4 linked regions of the Homo sapiens genome follow. The protein of the gene in region 1 purifies or fractionates together with the protein of each later gene. This does not show direct contact. Each region holds a gene or a part of one and is shown in the gene's direction. Other genes may lie near its edges. The genes, in order: HR, THRA, CSTA and IQGAP3.

Region 1 (6,264 bases):
GCACAGAAAGGTAGGTCCTCGGCCAGAGGCAGGAGCGGGGACAAGCTACAGAGGTGAGTGTTTGTCGCCACCAGCCCTGGGCCTGCCTGAGCGCTCTTTCCTCCTCAGACTTCCTTTCAGGCCTGGACGGGGAGGGGCTCTGGTCTCCGGGCAGCCAGGTCAGCACTGTGTGGCACGTGTTCCGGGCACAGGACGCCCAGCGCATCCGCCGCTTTCTCCAGATGGTGAGGAGGCAGCCGGGAGCCCTCCCCTTCCCCCCGCCCAGCCCTAGAAGCTCGTCCAGTCCCACCCCAGTGTGCGGTCCCATGTGCTCGCTCCCTGCCCCACGCCCTCAGGTGAGCTGCACAGACCCAACTCGCACAGACAGGTGCAGAGAAGGCAGAGGGGACCCGGAGTTCTGCCGTGGGGCTCAGAGAAGGGGCAGGGGCTGCGGCAGGAGAGCCTGGACCCGATGATGAAATGAGAGCACCAGCTGCCCGAGGCTGGACGTGGTGCTAGGGCCTTAGGCACAATTATCTGTTACCCGTCTCAGCCCCCCGCCCCATGAGGCAGGCACTGCTCCTTTCCCATTGGCAGATGAGAACACCGAAGCTCAGTGGCAGGGCTGGGATCTGAGCTTCTGTCTGTCATGGCCCCAGGTCACTACTCTATGCTCTTCCTGGAGGCAGGCAGCCTCCTCTGCCTTCTGAGACTCCGTCCGGCTGCCCACCTTTTGGTATTTGCATCTTGTTAGGGGAGACTGCCTGGAGGAGATGCTCCCGGAGGGGCTAGCAAGGAAGGGGGCTGAGGGAAGTGGAGGGAGAGATGGGTCAGGTGAGGAGCCAGGGAAGGGGAAGGTGATGGGGTGGGCTGGAGGCAAGAAGCTTGAGGCGCAGGGGAGGAGAGAGTCCAGGGGTAAGGCGAGGGCAGCCCCGTGGTTCCCAAGTCCAGCTGAGCCCTCATTATCCTGGGGAAAAGACTTCCACCTAGTGTCACCCCTCGCCAAGGCACACACACACACGGAGACGTGCAGAGGCCAGCATGGTGTGCACCCCTCCTGCCCACAGGTACACACATGTGTAGATACACACACAGATGCTGGGACACGCAGAGGGGAGCAGACAAGCACACCTCCACACACAGATGGCCTCTTCTGGGCTGGGTGTGGCTGGCCGTGGGCAGTCACTACGGCCCAACCCAGTGACTCACGGGGCAGGGCTGAGGGGCACAGTCTCCCTGGGTGGCCTGGGAAACACTGCTCAGCTCCAGGATGGAGCTGAATCTCCAAGGGCAAAGGAATCTTGGCACCCAGCTGGGACTCCCCTAGGGTCCAATTTGCTTCACCAGCCTTCCCTTCCCCCACGCCCCATCTTGCAGCCCTAAGCCCAGGGGCAATGGCTGAGGTCCTTGCCAAAGGGGGTGGATTGGGCTGGTGGTGGGTTGGAGCACGATGCTGGCGTCCCCTTTGCACATGTTCCCTGGGCACCTCTGTCCTCTGCGAGTCCCTGCCTGCCCAGAGAGCTCCCTGCTCTGGTTAGGCTTGTGAGGTCCCCGTAGCTGTGGCTGCTGCAGAGGCCTCAGCCTGGCCGGAAAGCCTGTTCACCTGCTGGCACTCAGAGCCTCGCAGTGGTCCTTCCCTTTTCTGCATCCGGAATCTTAGGGAGACCCTGATGAACACTTTGAGTTGTCTCCCCAGGGACACACAGCTCTCTCCTCATCCACCACTTAGCACACAATTCTGGCCATTCCAAAGACTTCAGATGAAGAAGTCCTGGTAGACAGTTTATGAACTGGGATTATGCAGGACGTCTCCCTCGGATTTGCAGAAAGGGGTACCATTGAGAGAGGGAGGAGAGGGGCCGAGGTCACAGAGGCTGTTAAAGGCCTCCAGCCCCAGAAAAGCAGGGATTCAGTCTGCCCAACTGTAGGGCCTTGAATCCCTTCCTTCTAAGCTCCTTCCAGCCAAATGTGTGTTCTGCCAACCTGAGCTGCCCCAGCCCCAAACAAACTCAGCCATGCCCTCCCTGCCTGCCCTTCAAGACTTGACCCTTCGGCTCTTTTCTCCACCCCTGGCCTCTGGAAAGTCCATGCCCCATCCTCCTGCAGCCCTGCCCTTCCCTCCCCATCTCGCTCATTCCCCCTTCTCTTCTTTGAGGTGTGCCCGGCCGGGGCAGGCGCCCTGGAGCCTGGCGCCCCAGGCAGCTGCTACCTGGATGCAGGGCTGCGGCGGCGCCTGCGGGAGGAGTGGGGCGTGAGCTGCTGGACCCTGCTCCAGGCCCCCGGAGAGGCCGTGCTGGTGCCTGCAGGGGCTCCCCACCAGGTGCTTCCCAGCGGGCAGGGGCTCTGCGGGGAGATCAGGATGGCAGAAGCGACCCAATCAAGGCCGCAGGCATCCAACATCCCCTCAATACCCAAGAGCCGGGCAGGGCAGGGAGCCGCACGCTGCTGTGGGGAAGAGATAACGGGGGAGCCAAGAGGCCTTGAAGTCACTGAGCCCAACTGGGACTGGCGCCAGAGTCCACTCCTGGTCTCCTGGGCATGCTGATGTCAGGGGGCTCGCAGGGAGACTTTAGGGTCTCTCCAGCAGTTCTGAGTCCCGGTTTTGGCCACAGGCTTTGAGGTGTCCAGTGGTGCATCCAGGAATCTGCTCTCTGAGAGCCAGGGGTCGGGGGTGGTTGTCATTAGAGGAAGCGAACCTCAGGGACCAGGGGGACAGGGAGAGGATGTGTGATCTTGAGCCTCACTGTCCATGTCCCCCCGACACAGGTGCAGGGCCTGGTGAGCACAGTCAGCGTCACTCAGCACTTCCTCTCCCCTGAGACCTCTGCCCTCTCTGCTCAGCTCTGCCACCAGGGACCCAGCCTTCCCCCTGACTGCCACCTGCTTTATGCCCAGGTGAGTGGGATGTGGGCCAGCAGGCTGGGTGTGCTACCCAAGCCTCCCACCTCCCTGTGCCACAGCTGCAGTGGACATAGCAGATCCCACCCTGTGCCAAGCAGGCAGCCACCCTGTGCAGGGGCAGAGTATTCCTTTTGTTTAGTTTGTTTCATTTTGTTTTTTGAGATGGAGTCTTGTTCTGTCACCTAGGCTGGAGTGCAGTGGCACTATCTCAGCTCCCTGCAACCTCCGCCTCCTGGGTTCAAGTGATTCTCCTGCCTCAGCCTCCCAAGTAGCTGGGACTACAGGCGCCCACCACCATGCCTGGTTAAATTTTTTTGGGATTTTTAGTAGACGTGGGGTTTCACCATGTTGGCCAGACCGGTCTTGAACTCCTGACCTCAAATGATCCACCTACCTTGGCCTCCCAAAGTGCTGGGATTACAGGTGTGAGCCACCGCATCTGGCCAGAGTATTCCTTTTAAGTAGGGTGGGGGACAGCGGGTGGGCCCAGGAATGTAGTTGAAAATGCTTTGTCCTCTCTCTTTTTCCTAGATGGACTGGGCTGTGTTCCAAGCAGTGAAGGTGGCCGTGGGGACATTACAGGAGGCCAAATAGAGGGATGCTAGGTGTCTGGGATCGGGGTGGGGACAGGTAGACCAGGTGCTCAGCCCAGGCACAACTTCAGCAGGGGATGGCGCTAGGGGACTTGGGGATTTCTGGTCAACCCCACAAGCACCACTCTGGGCACAAGCAGGGCACTCTGTTCCCCTCCCCCTTAAGCCAACAACCACAGTGCCACCAAGCTCACACCTGTCCTTCTCAGGCTGGCATCTCCCCCACCCTGTGCCCCTTTTCATGGTACCAGGCCCGCACTGGGGGCAATTGACTTCCTCCAATCCCCACTCCTCCGAGACCCAGGAGACAAACAGCCCTTCCTTGGGGAAACTTGGGAATCATTCTGGCTTAAACAACACCTCCTCCTGCTGCTCACTCCCGCTGAGCCCACTCTACTGCCCCAGCTCCGTTTCTACCACCGCATCCTCACTGGGCTCACTGCAGGCATGCTGAACAAGGGGCCTCCAACCTTCTGCCCTCCTGCCAAAAGATCTGGGGAGTGTGAGGAGAGGGTGGCATCAGGAGCTGCTCAGGCTTGGCGGAGGGAGCGGCATGGGCGATGTCACTCAGCCCCTTCCCGGTCCGCCCGCTTCCCTCCTTCATGATTTCCATTAAAGTCTGTTGTTTTGTGACTGCTGCCAGTGTGGTTGGCCCTGCCCCTGCAGGCCACATGGTCCAGGGAGGGAGGGGGACATGGAAATCTGCCTTAGAGACAAATGGAGTAGGGCAGCCCGGAGCTGGGGCCCAAGGGACAGGACACCACTGCCTGCTCTTCGTCTGGGGCCTGGGGCCTTGCCTCCCACTGAGGAGACTTTGGGTGGGGTGGGGGGCTGTCCCCCAAAGATGCTCCTGAGTGCAAGAGCAGGCAAGGCAGAGTCCTGGGGCACAGCCACGAGGTGACCTCCCTGTGCAGAGACTCCCGAGCCCTACTCCACCCAGCAAGCTCCAGTCCGCCCCATCTCTCCCGTCTACCCTGACCTGGAGATCCAGAAGTATGGCCCAGAAGAGCCCTTGCCCCGCCTGTCTGCCCTTGGTGGCAGTGGCCATGGCCGACGCCAGGCCCAGCCACCCTGGGACTGAGCCTGACTGCTTCAGACAGCCGACCCCTCCTTGTCCCCGCTCCACGCCCGCAGCCTCCTGGTGGCGCTCCGCCCTCTCCCGCTTCCTTTGTGTATCTCAGCCCTACAAAGAAAAACACTCCCACTCTTGTCATACCTAATTGTTCCTGCTGTGGTTTGGGGAATTTTTTTTATTAAATAAAGTTTTTTATTATAAGGGTAATATACTTTCAGAACATTCAGAAAATAAGAAAGTCACCTTCTAGCCCATCATTACACACCTCCAACTACTATGAGTATTTTGGCATATTCCCTCCCAGTGCTTTCCCCAAGGATTTGCTGTGCACATAGCTGGATTGCTGTGTTTTGTCCTTGGTTTCTTTCTTTCGACACCATATCATAATCATTTTCTGTGTTGCTACCTAATCTTCATTTTAAATGACTGCTTATATTCCATTAAGTGGCTTTGCCATGATTTACAAAACTATGCTTTATTTAAAAAAAAAAATGTAGGGCTTCTTTCATTGTTTGGAGAACTCAGTTATTTTCATTTTTTTATGGGATAAAGAGGAGAAAAGAAAAGAAAAAACTGAGAACTCTACAGTTTACTTTGCTTTTGTTTTCATTTAATTTATCTCATCTGGCCAGGCGACGTGGTTCACGCCTGTAATCCTAGCACTTGGGGAGGCAGAGGCGGGTGGATCACTTGAGGTCAGGAGTTCAAGACCAGCCTGGCCAATATGGTGAAACCCTGTCTCTACTAAAATACCAAAAAAAAAAAAAAAAAAAAAAAAAAAAATTAGCTGGGCATGGTGGCAGGCGCCTGTAATCCCAGCTACACGGGAGGCTGAGGCAGAAGAATCGCTTGAACCTGGGAGGTGGAGATTGCAGTCAGCCGAAATCATGCCACTGCACTCCAGCCTGGGAGACAGAGCAAAACTCTGCCTCCAAAATAATAATAATAATAATAATAATAATAATAATAATAATAATTTATCTCATTTAATCCCTTTTATTAAAATGATCTCAGTTAATCCGTTATCAGGATTTTAAGACAGATAGGATTTATTTCCATTTTACAGAAGAAGAAACAGGCAAGCTACAATTAAGTAAATTACCCAAGGTCGCATAGCAATTTTAGTGGAAGAACTGGGATTTGAACCAAGTTTTCTGAGTCAAGACACCTTGTGTACATTATAGTCTTAACTCTTAGTGGAATTTAAAGACAGGCTTGCCCTCCTCTCTGTCCTTCTTCTTCCAATGTACGTGCTTTATAGCTGATCATGTTCCAAGTGGCCCCGAATGACCCATTCCTACCTACGTTTCATCTTTTGTTTGAGACAGGGTCTCACTCTGTCACCCAGGCTGGAATGCAGTGATGCAATCTCAGCTCACTGCAACCTCTGCCTCCCGGACTCACGCCATCCTCCCACCTCAGCCTCCTGAGTAGCTGGGACTACAGGTGCATGCCACCATGCCTAATTTTGGTAGTTTTTGTAGAGACAGGGTCTTGCCACACTGCCCAGGCTGGTCTCGAACTCCTGGGCTCAAGCAATGTGCCCACCTTGGCCTTCCAAAGTTCTGGGATTACAAGCGTGATCCACCATGCCCCACTTCATCTTCTGTAGCCATGTCCTGATGTCACCTCAGAACCCCAAATCTGGAGTATTTCCTGTGGGAAGATGGTTCTCTGAATTTTACCCATTGGGGTGGGAACAGTGCACCACTAAAC
Region 2 (6,264 bases), on another chromosome or scaffold:
TGCATGCACACAGAGCAATTGCACACAGCAGCACAATTACAAAAGACCCTGTCACTCACAGGCACACACGTGCTCGCATGAGCCCAGTCACACAGACATCATTGCTTGCCGTGACAGTCGCTGTCACTCAGTCAGATGCAAACACAGTTACACACCAACACATGTATACACAACTTAGCAACAAGTATTTTCCTGGACTCTTTACTGTGGAGCTCTGAGGTTCTGTAGGCAACAAAACCCTTGCTCCCAAGAATATTAAATTTGGCTGTATGAAAAAGTGTTCCTGCGTAATGGTGTAAAGCATGCATTCCCAATGACATGTTCTTGGTCTCTATCGCTTGAGATACCACCCTACTAGACAGTGAGCTCTTGGAGACCTGGGAGAATCACTTAAAGAGCTCTGGATCCCACGCAGAGCCTAGCACAAGGGCTGCTCTGTAAATACTTGTTAGTTGATTGACTGTGGAACCTGCAGACACAGGTGCACTCATTTGCACATGGTCCCCTGAACTCAGGTGCAGAATGAGTTCACAAGGCCCAGGTCCCCACAGTTGCAGGTCCACACCAACAGTCGTGTCCACACAACCCCAGATACACACAACTGCAGCCTGTGCAGCCGAGCACACACTTAGATGCACACAATCACAAATTTTTCCCCTTCAGCTTCCTCCTCCCCTTTTTCCTCTAGGCTCAGCCACTGTGCGGGAATGGGCTGTTTTTTTTTTCTTTCTTTCTTTTAGAGGGACAGAGAAACAAGAGCAAAGACAGTGGGTTCAGGGGGGTTCCAGAGGGCCGAGTCATGGGCTCAAAGCAGTGTCCAGTGACTTCTAGAAGCTAGGATTCTCTTGACTGTTGGGGAAGGGGAGAGCTGCTCTCCTCCCTACCCTAAAAGCTCAGGGGTGTCTAACTGCCCCTGCTCTGAGTCATTTGCCTGGGTCTTTCCTGGGAACAGTCAGTCACTTCCAGCTGAGTTCCTGCGCCCCACCTTGAGTCTGGCCCTTTTTCCCACCTGTACCCTCCTGTCCAAACTTGGAAGCTTTCCTTAAGAGGCCATCGGCTGGCGAGTGTCTGTGTGAGTGATATGTACTTTTGACTTGGAATTTCTCTCTAACTCTGTCTCTCTGTTGCTCTGTCTTGCAGTGTCTGATTCTCCCTCTCTCTCTCCTTGTTTCTCTGCCAGTCTGTAACTCTCTCTCACCCTGTTGCTACCCCCGATCTACCCCTGTCCTTGTCTCAGAGCTGGGGACTGGCAGCAATGTTCTTCATACTTTTCCAGTTGTTAATACCCAAGCTCCGCCCCTCTGCCCCCCCTGCGCAGCCTCTGGGGTCAGCTTGAGGTTGGGGTGGGGGGCGGGGGGCTCAGCTGGCTGCTCAGGACTTCCTGCACTTCCTTAGTGCCGCAGCTGTGGCCAGCAAGTTTTAGGGGCTGGGAATGGGGGAAGGGGGGGGGGGTCAGCCACTGCCCATGCTGACCCCTCGGGCCTGCATGTCTGGAGACACCAGTTCTGTGGGCACCCTCAGGGTGCAGGCTGCAGCCAGCTAGCAGCTCTTAAACAAGCCATGAAGAGGCTCCCCCCACACTGGCCCAAGCTGGAAAAGAACCGCCCCCATGGGCAGTGGCGGGAGCTGGCAGGACCCTGCTGAGTTGGGTCCACTGCAGGGCTCACAATGGCCTTTCTCCACACCCCTGGCAGCTGAGGCCCACCTCAGAGATGCCCAACAGCTGTGTCCTTTTTGCCCAGCCTCAGGGCCTGGTTCTGAGGGCACAGCTGCCTAGACTAAGTATGTACTAAGCGAGGCCCTCCCACCCGTGAGTGCAGGTTCCAGCCTAGAAGGGGTACCTCTTCTGGAGAGGGAATTTGAGGAGGGGGAACTCAGGCAGGAGACATCGAGCCCGGGGGCACCAAGCACTTCTCGCTATGCTCCCCTCTAGCCTTGGACTATTTGGAGGTGGAGGCACTTGGCAGAGAACCCACAGGGCAGCTACAGAGGGGAAAGACTGAGGCTTGGTCTCAGGGAACACATAGCTGGATGAAAGAACAAGGCATTGGGCCGGGCACAGTGGCTCACACCCGTAATCCTAGCACACTGGGAGGCGGAGGCAGGCAGATCACCTGAGGTCAGGAGTTCAAGACCAGTCTGACCAAGATGGTGAAACCCCATCTCTACTAAAAATACAAAACTTAGCTGGGTGTGGTGGCGGGGTCCTGTAATCCCAGCTACTCAGGAGGCTGAGGCAGGAGAATCGCTTGAACCCAGGAGGTGGAGGTTGCAGTGAGCTGAGATTGTACCACTGCACTACAGACTGGGTGACAGAGCGAGACTCCGTCTCAAAAAAAAAAAAAAAAAAAAAGAAAAACAAAAAAGAACAAGGCATTATCTATCAAGCAGGTGATATACCATCACAGCTAAGAACAGAGATGATGGTGATGATCATGACGGCCATGATTGACCTGGACTGCCTAGGTCTGAATCCCAGCTCTGTCACTTGCTGGATGTGTGACTTTGAGCAAGCGATTTAACTTCCCCGTTGCCTCATCTGTAAATTGGGGATGATCATATCTACCTCATTTAGCTTTTTTGAGGAAAAATGTTTTTAAAAGTGCCTAGTTCATAACAAACTGTATATGTGAGCGGTTGTGATGGGTGAAGGAAGCTGTGGGCCTGGGGTCTCCCAGATTTCTTAGAGAAGCTTCGTGGAGAATTGGGTCTCCTAGACATCAGTGAGACTGGGGCCTGGGGCAGTGGGTCTCCAATTTCCAGCCTTCTCACCGTCATGTAATCTTTTCCTCCCAGACAAATTTTTGCAGCCTGGAATGAGTGTATGGGAAAGAGCCCAAGGCAGGCCCCTCTGCCCCACCCTCCTTTGACCCTCGCCCTTCAGCTTACAAGGAGCCCTTGGCCCCTCAGCCTGGGACACACCCCACCAGCTAGGGGCACCTGCATAAATCTTTGGGCATCACTGCATCTCTGTTCAGGGTCTGAGCTCTGGGGGTGGGAGAGAGAGAACAAGGAAAGCCGTCCCCTCTCTTATGTGTGGGCTCAAAGAGGAGGCAGTGCCCTTCCTCCCTCCTGGGAGCCCAGCATTGGTCAACCAGGACCCAGCTCTGGCTGATAGGCACCAGATTCCCCTGCCCTCCATGGAGTGGTACTTAGTGTGAAAGGTGGTGGCAGAGAGAAACTGAAGCACTGAGTAATGACCAGTGTGGTGGGCACAGCACTTTGAGATCCAGCATCTGTCCTGGGTTGCCTCTTTGCCTTTGTGAGTCTGGTGATCAGGATCCCCTCTCCAAACCCCTTTTATTTAGCCCTGCCCCTCAAGGTGAAGGAAGGACAATGGGAGGATACCCTGTAGGGGTGACGGGAAGCCTTTGGAGTGGGAACCAATCTCAACTCTAGTTCTCGGCTGGGCACAGTGGCTCATGCCTGTAATCTCAATATTTTGGGAGGCCAAGGCGGGAGGATCACTTGAGGCCAGTAGTTCATGATCAGCCTGGTCAACATAGTGAGACCCCATCTCTAAAAACAACTTTAAAAAGTTAGCCAGGTGTGGTGGCGCATGCCTGTGTTACCAGCTACTTGGGAGGCTGAGGCCGGAGGATCGCTTAAGCCTGGAAGGTCGAGGCTGCGGTGAGCTGTGATTGTGCCACTGCACTCTAGCCTGAACAACAGAGTGAGACCCCCCACACACACATCCTCTCAAAACAGACAGAAAACAAAACAAAAAACCCAACTCTAGTTCTCATGGCTGCAAAGGTGTCTAGGGGACTTTGGAGAACTGTTGTGTCTCTTGGGGAGGGAGGCAAGCATGACCGTGGTGGGAAGATCACTGGCTGGGAGTTGGGAGGCCTGGCTGTTGACATTCACTAGTCGTATGACTTTGGGCCTGGGTTTTCATTATCTAGAGACAATGGTTCCTGTCTCACTCAGGTTGAGGGCAAATAACACAAGGTGGGATGACCCCTGTGTTCAATCCATGTTGCATCCTGGCATGGTGAGCAATGCCTGTGGATTCTCCTTTTTTCCCAGGGCCTGGCACATGCCAGGGTGGGGCATACACATGCTGCCTGGAACCAGAGACAGTTCTCAGTCTCTCACTGAAGTATCTGGGGCTGGTGTGTGGTGGGGGCACATGTGGTTCCACCTTGGTGTCACTTGGCAGGCCAAAGCTGGGGTCATAGGGACCTCCCTCCGGTATGCCATTGCGTGAGGTGGTCCAGAGGGAGGGTCAGAAGTTTGCTGGGTAGACAAGGGAAGCAAGATGGGTGTTACTGGTGCCCAGGAAATACTATCCTTGCTTCGCTGTTTTGGGGGTGGGCATTAAAGGTTGATACCAAAGCCTCAGCCATGCCCCTCAGCAGTGGCCAAGAGCAGAATGATTGGACCAAGCCCCTGGCCCACCTCCTCCTCCTCCTCTTTTCCTCTTCTAAAGAAGAGATCGGCTCTTGGCTCCCAGAGCCCCAGCTGCCTGTTTCTTTTTCTCTTTTACCAGGCATGGGGGTGGGGAAACAGGGGAACCGAGGCTTTGGTGTCTTTCGGCATTTTTGTACACATCAGTGAGTGGGTGTGTTGTGCACGCATCCATGTGAGAGTGTTTTTGTGCATGTGTGGGCTGGGGAGGGCTCTGAATATCTCCTGGAACGGTACCCAGAGCCCTGTGGCTCTGCGCATGCGGGGTGAGTGTGTGTGTCTGCACGTGTCCGTGTGTGTGCCGGAGACTCAGCTGCATTCACGCGCGCGCTCTCTCCCTCCCTCTCTCCCTCCCTCTCTCTCTCCCTCCCTCCCTTCCTCTTCCCTCTCCCTCTCTCTCTCCCCCTCCCCCTCTCTGTCTCTCCCTCCTTCTCTCCCTCCCTCTCTCTCTCTCACACACACACTCTCAATCTTTCTCTCTTCCCTCCCCCTTCCTCCCTCCTTCCTATTCCCTCCCTCCTCCCTTTCTGTCCCTGTCTCTCTGTCTCTGTCTCTGTCTCTCTCTCTCTGCCTCTGCCAGTTCTGCTTGGTTAGGGGCTAGCTCCAGCCTCTGGGGTGCCTGGGAGAACATCCCTCCCTTTCTTTCCCCCTCCACCATTCCCTCCCCTCCTAGGCCATGCTCTTCAGGGCTTGCAGGCAACTTCTTCTACTGCCTTAGATGAGGGAGTGAGGAGGGAGGACCCCAAGCCTTGTGCCCATGGTGCCATCTGCAGCAAGTGCCTTGGCCCCGTGACATTCATGCCTCCAGCATTCAGCTGCCCCAGCTCCCAGCTCCAATTACCCGCTGGCTGCTGGGGGAGGGTGGGGAGAATGTGCCGTGCCCAGCTTGGGGGTGCTCCTGCTTCTGCTTTCTTGGCTACTTGGATCTCCTGCCTCCATTCCTGAGGGGAATTGGGCAGGGGGGGCGTGAAGTTCTGTGGGCTGATAAGGAGGGGCTGAGTTCTCCAGCATGGGTGTGGGCATGACCACCCACCAGTGGTCATGGGGGATGGATGTGACCTGGGAGGAGACCTCCAGACCTGGGCACCCACCTTGATGCCTGGCTGGAGCTGGCCCGGGCAGGAGGAGGGAGAGGAGAGCAGCAGGTGGGTGAGGCTATGGGGGAGCCGAGTGGGAAGCAGTCTTTGATGTTAATACTGGGCATCTGGCCCAAGTCAAGGCTGCTGTTTATGTCTTTCTGTCTCTGACCTGCAGGGGGGGTTTCCTGTTATATTCTTTTGGGGCGGGGTGGGGAGGATCCTTTGTTTAAGTAACCAATCTCCCCCTTATGAGGATCCCCACCCCATCTCCCATTCTCTAGCCTCTAAGGTCCCACAGTGGCTAGGTGATGAGTCACTGCCCCCCAGCTCCAGAACCTGTCTCCTGGGGGCCCAGTGAGAGCTCACCAAGGGGTGCCGCCTCCCCTCCTCCCGTCTCCCCCATGCCTGCCAGGCTGGGGCCCTGAGTCTGTGTGTACTCCTCTGCCACATCACACCTGCCAAATAGTACCTTCCTTCCCGCCTTCACTCCTCCTCTCCTTCCTGGCACTAGGATAACAGAGAGTTGGGTGGGGCAGCCCTGCTCAATCCATACCTGAGAATAGAACAGGGGGTATGGGAAAGGACAGGGAGTCCCGGTCCTAGAGAGGCCTCTGCCCCTCAGCATGGGGGCACATGTCGCTGCTGCAGCACTGCCACCACCACAGACTCCCAGGGGCCCTTGGTGTGGGTGGCTGCCTGTGGTGCCCGTGTTGGCATGGGGGGCAGTGCTGCCCATAGACGCCTGTGCCCATGCATGCCCATTTATGTGTCTGGG
Region 3 (6,264 bases), on another chromosome or scaffold:
CTACTTCTCTGTGCATCCTTTCTCCGCTCTCCTGCCCCTAGCTCTTCCCACTTCTGGTTTGTCCTCACTATTTGTCTTCTCCCTTTCTCCACTTTGAAATTTCATTTCCATCTCAACAGAACAATCACACTTTTCCCGTCTATTCTCAAGGTTACAGGAGAACTGAGTGGTGGTCCGTGGAGTGTTTGGCCTTTCAGAAATGGTCTGAGAACTCACAGTTTGCATATGTCTACATCTTTGAAAACAGTTCTGGTACTCAAACTGAGGCATCAGTAGTAAAGGTTCAAAACATCTGCCCAGGGAGGATTGTTTGAGTCCGGGAATTCGAGGCTGCAGTGAACTATGATCACGCCACTGCACTCCAGCCTGGGTGAGGGGGAGATTCTGTCTCTTAAATTTAAAAAAACAAAAAACAAAAAAAACCTGCCCACTGATAGGAAGGACTGCCTTGGGAGAATCCTAGATGGACTGGAGGCCTGATTGAAGTTGTATGGACATGCAATGCTTTCATGAAGGGCATAAAAGCAAGTTCTCAATAAACAAGGTACATTCAACACAGAGAGTTATATCCTTTTTCCTCCAAAAGACAGAAAAGAATTGGGGTTGAAGGACAAATCCACAGACATAAAGACAACAGGAGATAGGCAAGTACCACCTCAGAAATACCAATAAAATTTTGGAAGTTGGAAAACAGATGAACAATGGAAAATGCTGAGCAGTCTAAACAGAAGCTAAGCCCATAGAGGGGAAAGTCTAAGCCAGAAGCAAGCAGATTCACACTGCAGAACGTCACAATGGCGCAGGCATGAGCAACACCAAAAAGTCGTAGCCAGGAGTAAGGTCTCAGACCAAAAGCAAGAGGACTGATCTGTATGAAGGACAGTGAGACCTCCCATAGTTCCTTCTCCCTCACTGTCCTCCACCCCGGCAGAAGACGAGCTTTACACTTAGCAGGAACTGAGTCAAGAGCTCATAGTAGACTCTTGCATATCAGGCCCAGCTGAGAGTGGGAATGAAGCACTGTACAGAAAGTTGATGGGCTCAGTAAAAGTTTACATATTGAATTTGGGACTGTCTCCCTTCTCATGCTGGGTTCGGGAATGCTGACATTTAAACCCAACCCATATCCCTCCATGGTAGACAGAATGATGGCCCTCCAAAGATGTCCATGTCCTAATCCCTGGAACCTGTGACTAGGTTCCTTTACACAGCAAAAGAGACTTTGCAGGTGTGATTAAGTTAAGGCTCTGGAGATGGAGAGGTTATCCTGGATTATCCAGGTAAGCCCATGCAATCACAGGGTCTTTATAAGAATTATACCCAAATACTGCACTCTAGTTAGTATATTGTTTTCCACAGGGGTATAGGTCAACAATTCTGAAATTATTTTATGTATATGCTAGAACTGAGAAAATAGGCGAATACATTGCAAATAATAAGAACCAGGATTCTTCCTCAGTGTTTGAGAAAGGAGTTATAATAAGGAAAAGGGAAAAGCTAAATGAGTCCTGTGGTATTTGATTTATTTTATTATTTATTTATTTATTTATTTATTTATGTATTTTGAGGCAGAGTTTCACTCTTGTTGCCCAGGCTGGAGTGCAATGGTGTGATCTCGGCTCACTGCAACCTCCGCCTCCCAGGTTCAAGCAATTCTCCTGCCTCAGCCTCCTGAGTAGCTGGAATTACAGACACCCACCATTGCGCCCAGCTAATTTTTGTATTTTTAGTAGAGACGGGGTTTCATCATGTTGGTCACACTGGTCTCAAACTCCTGACCTCAAGTGATCCACCCGCCTCTGCCTCCCAAAGTGCTGGGATTACAGGCATGAGCCACCACACCCGGCCGTGGTATTTGATTTTAATCAGAGGAATACACACACACACACACACACACACACACACACACACACGTACACACACATATATAATGTATATATATAATGACACACAGATAAATGTGTGTATATATGCACACACATACACAAATGCGTAAAGATGTGTGCATGTGTGAGTACACATATTATTTTGTAGCCCTTTCCACTGAGTGGGCCTAGAAGCAATGACATTTAGTAACAAGAGACACAGCACCCAAATCTTGGGTCTTAAATACCGTTCTCCAATAAAAGGAGCAGGGACTCCTTGGAGAAATAGTTGATTCCAGTGAGGAGGCAAGGAAACTTCAAGATAAACCTGGAACATCTGACTCTACTTTTGTAGAGTCAGAAAGTAAGGAAGTGCTTATAAAATGATGGAGGCATGTTGAAAGAACACAGGCATCAGGTGAAGGAGCTCCCAACGGCCAAATCTAGGGCATTTGAGTAACAAAATAGAGTAATGAATTGTAATCCACAGAGTAAAAGAAATATCCATGAGTCATATTAATATAAAATAAGTAATTGACTACATAAAGAGGAGAGAGGGAACAGCTCTTCCTTATGGCAGAATTCCAGATAATAAATGCACAAGAAATGATTTTTTAATTACCATTTGGCCAACACCACAATTAATCATTGTTGTAGGCAAGAACCATCAATGGATGCTAAAATTCATGTATGAAAGTATGGCGAGAAACAAGACTCCTCACAAGACACTTACTAATTACAAAGGGGAAAAAAATGGTAACTTTACCGTGGAGAAACCTGGCAGACATCCTAAGTGATCAAAATTAACATCACCAGTAATGAAACGTAGCTCCTGATAGGATGCACTTAAGCACAACATCACGTTTGTGCTATCCTTACAAACATGTATAATACTAACATAAGAGGAGATCACACAAACCTAAATTGAGAGACATTCTACCATTTAACAGGCCAGTATTCTTCAAAAACATCAAGGCCATGAACAAAAAGGAATGAACCCAGATTGTAGGAGACTGAGGAGAAATGACAACTAAATGCAATGTAGGATCCTGCATGAGATCCTGGAGCAGAAAAGAGACATTTTCAGGAAAACTGGCAAAATTCTGATAAGGTTTAGAGACTACTTAATAGTATTATACCATGTTAATTTCCTCATTTTGGTGATTATACTATGTTATGTAAAACGGCAAAATTAAGGGAACTGTAAATGATATAAGAGAATTCATTATACTAATTTTACAACTTTTAAGTCTGAAATCATTTTAAAATAATGTTTTAATCAAGTAGTAATTATTGCTCCACTGATTTTTATTAATCAAAGATACATATAACTCTTAGAGTTTTAGCAGTCAAAACGCTCCTATATTGCATTACCACACTGAGTTGATGTGAATTCAGCCTAAAGCAACAAAATTTGACTTTTTAACCTATGTAATTGTATTAAAACAGGTGTTTTCTATTGAAATAATAAAAATAGTTCATAGATTTCATTACCATCTTTGAAGACTTTTAGGAGGATGAGGTTCCCAGATGGGTACATTGCATACATGGAGTCTAATATAGCTTTGATTATTTGTTTCCTCTTTTCTTTTCTTTAGGTTAAACCACAGCTTGAAGAAAAAACAAATGAGACTTACGGAAAATTGGAAGCTGTGCAGTATAAAACTCAAGTTGTTGCTGGAACAAATTACTACATTAAGGTTAGAGTTCAGCACCTACTTTAGCGCCAAAAGATGTATTTCTCATTTTATGTAAAATATTCCCTGATTTCCCTACCACATAATTCCTTCCTTACGGTTGTCCTAAATTAAGATGCCCAGCATGATTCCTTCCAAGTGGTGGACTCTCAAATTTGGTAGATGATGTGACACCATTTTTTTTCTTGTGAATTCAGAAAGTTTTATTACATTGATTCTTGATTTCTGGAAATTGTATAGAAAAAGATTTCATAACAGTTCAGGGCATGCTGGATTTGTGGCTGTGCTGCTGCTTAGGTAAGGAGGGAGGATCACGTCTCATCTGCCTGAAGGTGTGGGGCTGGACCACATGGTATCTTGAAGCTGATTCTACCTCAAAGCTGTATGATTCTCTATGTCTAAATTAAATAAATTAAAGTAACGACTCAAATCATTAGCTGGGAAAATAATTTAAACCTTTTTTGCCCTTCAATTAATATAATGTAAATACTATTTTGTAACTCAAATTAGATTTAACTTGTGGCACTCTAGGCATAGTTTAAAAGAGTGGAGTATTTAAAATAGTTTAAAAGTTAATTTTATAGCTCTGTCAAAAAATTACACAATGCATTGATCGAGTTCTAATTGAAGTTATCAAGAGGAAACCAGTTGAACAAGTCAACCATGAATATTTGAGAGCCATGTTTGTCCTTATATATTAAGAAGATGATAATGCTGATTTTAAAAATAAAAACAAATATTCAAGTATATTTACTTAATCTTTACTTCACTATTTGACCAGGGCACAGTGTGGCTTATTTCTCTTTAACAAATATTTCTATTAAAATATAAACATTTTAAAAGATTTTTTCAGCAAAAAAAAAAAAAAAAGTAAGTGAAGTAAGTGGAGCTAGTCAGCTCAGCATAAGAAAGTTTCAGTACAGAGCTATGTACACAGATCAGCCCTGTTCTGCCAAATGTGAGCTCCTAGTAACGACCAGGTCCCGGGGAGACACATGTGAAAGAGGACCCTGCTGTATCCTCAGAAAACAATGGCACCATTTCCTCCATTCTCAATCTGCTTTCTTCATGGCTGGAAAAGAAAGTTTTCCAGTTAAAAATGATTATGTGCAAAGATAGGAAACATTCCATCAACATTAACATATTTAATAATTTATGATTAATTCAAATGCATAAATTTCACATATTACCAGCTCACATGTTTCTTCAACAGTTCATCAGATAACTATCTTGAAAATTTCTGCTTGAAAATTTGTTCCCTTGACCACCCTTTTGCCCTCTCTTAATCAGTCTCCTCTCTCTCTCTCATCTTTTCTTCCTTCTGCTATCAAACTTTTCCTACTGGATCTCAGCCACCGATCCCAGTTCCCTTTTACTTCCTGGTAGTCTGGCTGTTGATCCCTTTGCTCTGAGGCACTCTAGATTTAAGGTCTTGCCAGTGATGTGACCTTCTCTATGTATTTCAAGTACCTATCAAGAGGTAGGTGGTAGAATGGAAGGACCACAAGCTTAGGTGTCAGAGTGTCCTGGGTTTGAACCCTTGTTCAATTTGTTCTATGGGAAGCTCCTCCTCCTCTCTGAGCCTTCATTCCCTTATCTGCACAATGAGGGTAATAATCTACTTCGCAGCGTGTTGTGAGGAATAAATAAGCTGGAAATTTATTGAGCACTTATAATTCACTATGCACTATTCTAAGAACAGGGCTTATCTCATTTAATCCTCACAACAAATCTATGAGATAAGTACAATCACTTCTCTTGGGTTACCAACGAAAAAACTGAGTTCCAGGGTGGTGAAGAAACTAAAAAGATCACACAACTACAAGAGCAGAGTCAGGATTTGAACCCAGATAGACTGAGCTTAACTACTGGCTGTGCTGCCTCTAATATAAAGCACAAAATAAGAGCTTTTACAAGGTTACACTGGCCTGGTGTGGTGGCTTATACCTGTAATCCGAACACTTTGGGAGGCCAAGGTGGGAGGATAGCTTGAAGCCAGGAGTTTGAGATCATTCTGGGCAACATAGCAAGACCCTGCCTCTACAAAGAAAATGTTTTAATTACCTAGGCATGGTGATGCACACCAGTAGTCCTAGCTACTTGGGAAGCTGAGGTAGGAGGATCACTTGAGCCGAGGAGTTTGAGGTTGCAGTGAGCTGCGATCGCACCACTGCACTGTGAGCCAGGCCTCATTCCCCGATCAGTACCCCCCAAAAATGTTACATTGTAGAGTGAAAAGAATGTAGATGCTAGAGGCTAACAGATCTGGGTTTGAATATTGGCTGTGCCACTGACTAGCTGAGAGATTTATGGAAAATCACTTAATCTCTCCTACTCTGCTTCCACGTCTGTAAAAATTTCATTGCTCCACTTTTCTTCAGGCCTATAATATAGGTTAATATAATCATTTATATAAAATGTTCATCATAGTGTCTGGCTCACAGTAAACATTTGATATATGGCATTTGTTAAAATTAGGATAGGAAGTGACATCAGAAGCACAATAAATATTTGTATAAGACAAAGCATTTATTGTCTCCAGCAAGAACCAAAGTAAAAATTCTTACCATAATTTTCCAGGTCTCAGATTCATGTCCAAACTACTGCTTCTGCTTCAACCTTCCTACCAATGACTTCCTAGTAAAACCCCTTAGCTTTTTTTTTTCTTTTCTTTTTTGAGACGGAGTTTCACTCTGTCACTC
Region 4 (3,500 bases), on another chromosome or scaffold:
TTTTGGCTATCTGCAATAGCCCACATCGGTCTGCCTTCGGTAATACTGGGCCTGAAGATTGGTATTCATCTTTACTCCTTACCAGCCACCTCCCACAATCCCATGCTTTATCTCCCTGGACCCTTTAGCCCTATTTCCATGTGTCTTCTAAACTAACTTAATCTAAGAGAACAGTTCCTTGCAGCTGTGTGTCTTTGAACCAGGTTATTTTTTTCTCTGCCTCCTCTTCCCTGTGGATGAAAGGAGGTGAAGTTTCCCTGGCCTGAGTGGCACGGTTCCCATTATGCAGGGGGTGGGAGGCTGCTATGTCATGCTCGTATTGGCCAGCCTTGTCTCCACCAAATTTCACAGTGTGAAGCAAGGGTATACACATCCCTAGGTGGCAGACTTTGAGTTAGAAGCCTAGGTCCAAAACCCCAACTGGACACATGATTTCACTCTTTGAACCTCAATTTGTTACTCATCTGTAAAATGGGGATAGTGAGCCCTGCCCTGTCTACCTTACAGTGTTGTCAGGAAGATCACATGGTCTGTGTGAACTCCCTTTGTGAACTGTGAAGAGCTATACAAATGAAGGCATGATAGGATTCTACAATGTATGGTTTCTTTCTGCTTTGTTTTTCTTCCCTGTAGAAAGGCACTATAAGACAGGAAACAGCAGTAAAGACACTTCGATGGGAGGCAGAAGCAATAGAGGTCATGTGTCTTCAGTGGGACTGGAACACTCTAGGTCTCTAAATTTGGTCTTTTATTGTGAATCTAAATATAACCAAGATATATTGAGGTTAGGCCTCATTACAGTTGTCAGGTGGCATTGAGAAGCCATACCTGGTGCCACTCGGTTCTTAGAAGGGCTCTCATTGATCAGAAGCCGCTGGCTTGGAGACAGGGATAACAGCCTGACACTTTTGTGGTCCTTGGCAATATATGCTTCATTGGGCCCTGCATGGGAGTAGGCCAGCTCTCCAGCATACCACATCTCTGGCAAGGGTCTAAGGTGAGGCATGCAGGCTCACTATAGACATCTGGAAGACAACTGGGGGCCTGGTTTTTTGTTGTTGTTGCTGTTATTGTTTTTGGAGGATATGGCTTATATCCTGTAGCCTTGATGGCCTTATCTGGTGTTTGGTTAATCCAGGGCACCCTAGGACTATGTGTCTGTGGCTGAGCCTTGGCTTAGTATGCATCCTCAGTGAATTTCTTTTATACTAGGCTGACTAGAAATGGTTGGGGGAGACTGACCTAGACACCCCAGGTAACAAGGGAACACACACCTCAGGTTGGAGAGGAAGACCCATTCCTCGGCACCCCCTCTCCGCATTTGGTGGTGCTTAAAGGTTCCCAATGGCAGTAACTGGCTGGTTTCTCCTCTAGACCTTCTTCCCAGAGACCACGGACATCTATGACAAAAAGAACATGCCCCGGGTAGTCTACTGCATCCATGCTCTCAGGTGAGAGACCTCAAATTTTATCATCCAGGTTCCTCTAGGTGGATGCGACCAACAATCAACAACAACAAACTCAGCAAGAAAGAAGGATGAAGGGTAGACCACAGGGAGCACTGCTCAGGAGAGTGAGGTTTCAGATTTACAGAGTTGTGTTTAGATTTTTGTGCATGTCTGTGGGCACATTTATGTATGGCCTGTGTGGGTGAAGGGGAAGGGCAGGCAGGGTACCAGAGATAGGAAAGTAGCAGGGTAGGGCCTTCAGTTTGTAACTGGGTATAAAGGAATCAGAACAGGACCTATTGAGAGCAACACAGGCAAGACACTTAGTATGGATGGTGTAGGCTCTTTGGTCCTACTTACAGCCAGCCATCAGCAACCAGTTGGCTAAATCACAGCAAGTGACCGACCGGTTCCTTGTGTTTACCATGCCATCTCTTTCTGACCACTTCCCATGTCCCTTTGTGCCCCTGTGCCTTAGCTCAGCAGGTATCTGCTTGCTGCGCCCTTCCTGTCCTCTCTCTCCATTGAGTGACCTGCTACTGCAATGTGGCCTTCTCTGTGAAGCCTTCCTAATCCCCTCAGACCCCCAACACCATCTTATTTACCTTCTGCAGCACTTTCCTTGGGCTGATTTATGGTCATATTTCTTTATGTGGGTTGGGGATGACTTGAGGGCAGGTGCTGAGTGGTCTTCATCTCTAGGTCCCCATAGTATCCCCTTCAAACCCATCGTGGGCAGAGTGTCAAAATGAATAGGCCCCAGTGCCTTCCAATGCCTTCCGTTTTTTCCTAGTCTCTTCCTCTTCCGGCTGGGATTGGCCCCTCAGATACATGATCTATACGGGAAAGTGAAATTCACAGGTAAGCCCAGCTCCTTCCCTGACCACCACAGCCTGGGCAGGGTCTTGGGGGTTCTGGGCCTGATGAAGGGCACCTGTGGCATCATTGCAGCTGAGGAACTCAGCAACATGGCGTCCGAACTGGCCAAATATGGCCTCCAGCTGCCTGCCTTCAGCAAGATCGGGGGCATCTTGGCCAATGAGCTCTCGGTGGATGAGGCTGCAGGTAAGGACTAGGCTCTGCCCTGCCAGGAGTAGGCTCAATGCGTATGGGAGGGCTCCAAGCCTCACAGCCATTGGATGGGTTCTGGCCAGCTCTCATCCACAGATAGGGCCATCAGGCTACCTGGTTTGTCTGGCCCTTGAGGGTGGGAAAAAGGATGACATTAGAGTGGGCTGCTACTGGTTGCGCTCCAATCTGGGATTCACTCTGGCCTCCTGACCTTGTTTCCATGCCCTCTCCCAGTCCATGCAGCTGTTCTTGCCATCAATGAAGCAGTGGAGCGAGGGGTGGTGGAGGACACCCTGGCTGCCTTGCAGAATCCCAGTGCTCTTCTGGAGAATCTCCGAGAGCCTCTGGCAGCCGTCTACCAAGAGATGCTGGCCCAGGCCAAGATGGAGAAGGCAGCCAATGCCAGGAACCATGTAAGGAGTAGTCTTGGGTTGCAGGGACCGAAAAGTTGAGTGGCTGGAAAGTCTCAAGTGAAACCGGGACTCCTATCTGTCATGTCTCTAGTATCCAAAATTGCTTCTTAGAGAAACCATAATTTATCAGTGATTTTAGAGAAATAGGAAAGGAACTTGGAAGAATGATGAGAATTCCGAAGAGAAGACTGGAGAAGAGGTTCTTGGGGGATGATCTTCAGGGAAGCCTGAGAGGGGTGCTGGAATGTAGAACAGAATGAGATTGGACTGGAGGTTCCAAAGGTTGGTTTGGCTTAATTATGTCAGTGCCAAGTGTTTTAGACCCCACAATTCCTGAATTCTGAGCAGACTGAACTTTGGCCTTGGGAAGGTCCCCAGAAGAAGAAATAAGTGTAGCCAGGCAGGGAAGAGCAGGACAAGGAGATTAAATTGGGTTTCCCAGGTTCCCTTTCAATGGAGTTTTTGCAGGATGACAGAGAAAGCCAGGACATCTATGACCACTACCTAACTCAGGCTGAAATCCAGGGCAATATCAACCATGTCAACGGTAAGAGACCTCGAGCAGGAG

What was found.
Region 2: the proteins of HR (region 1) and THRA purify together in Homo sapiens (affinity purification with western blotting, with the first as the bait; one study listed by BioGRID). This does not show direct contact.
Region 3: the proteins of HR (region 1) and CSTA purify together in Homo sapiens (affinity purification with mass spectrometry; one large-scale study listed by BioGRID and IntAct). This does not show direct contact.
Region 4: the proteins of HR (region 1) and IQGAP3 purify together in Homo sapiens (affinity purification with mass spectrometry; one large-scale study listed by BioGRID and IntAct). This does not show direct contact.

The regions. Positions count from the first base shown.
Region 1 is NC_000008.11:22,112,910-22,119,173, reverse strand, and holds the end of HR (lysine-specific demethylase hairless), read left to right. Parts: coding exon 1-10; intron 11-108; coding exon 109-224; intron 225-2,134; coding exon 2,135-2,299; intron 2,300-2,745; coding exon 2,746-2,874; intron 2,875-3,411; coding exon 3,412-3,474; 3' UTR 3,475-4,755; downstream 4,756-6,264. UniProt on the Homo sapiens protein: Histone demethylase that specifically demethylates both mono- and dimethylated 'Lys-9' of histone H3. May act as a transcription regulator controlling hair biology (via targeting of collagens), neural activity, and cell cycle.
Region 2 is NC_000017.11:40,064,332-40,070,595, forward strand, and holds part of THRA (thyroid hormone receptor alpha), read left to right. Parts: intron 1-6,264.
Region 3 is NC_000003.12:122,334,084-122,340,347, forward strand, and holds part of CSTA (cystatin-A), read left to right. Parts: intron 1-3,463; coding exon 3,464-3,565; intron 3,566-6,264. UniProt on the Homo sapiens protein: This is an intracellular thiol proteinase inhibitor. Has an important role in desmosome-mediated cell-cell adhesion in the lower levels of the epidermis.
Region 4 is NC_000001.11:156,562,566-156,566,065, reverse strand, and holds part of IQGAP3 (ras GTPase-activating-like protein IQGAP3), read left to right. Parts: coding exon 1-39; intron 40-633; exon of another isoform or gene 634-730; intron 731-1,374; coding exon 1,375-1,451; intron 1,452-2,241; coding exon 2,242-2,309; intron 2,310-2,399; coding exon 2,400-2,513; intron 2,514-2,753; coding exon 2,754-2,932; intron 2,933-3,400; coding exon 3,401-3,479; intron 3,480-3,500.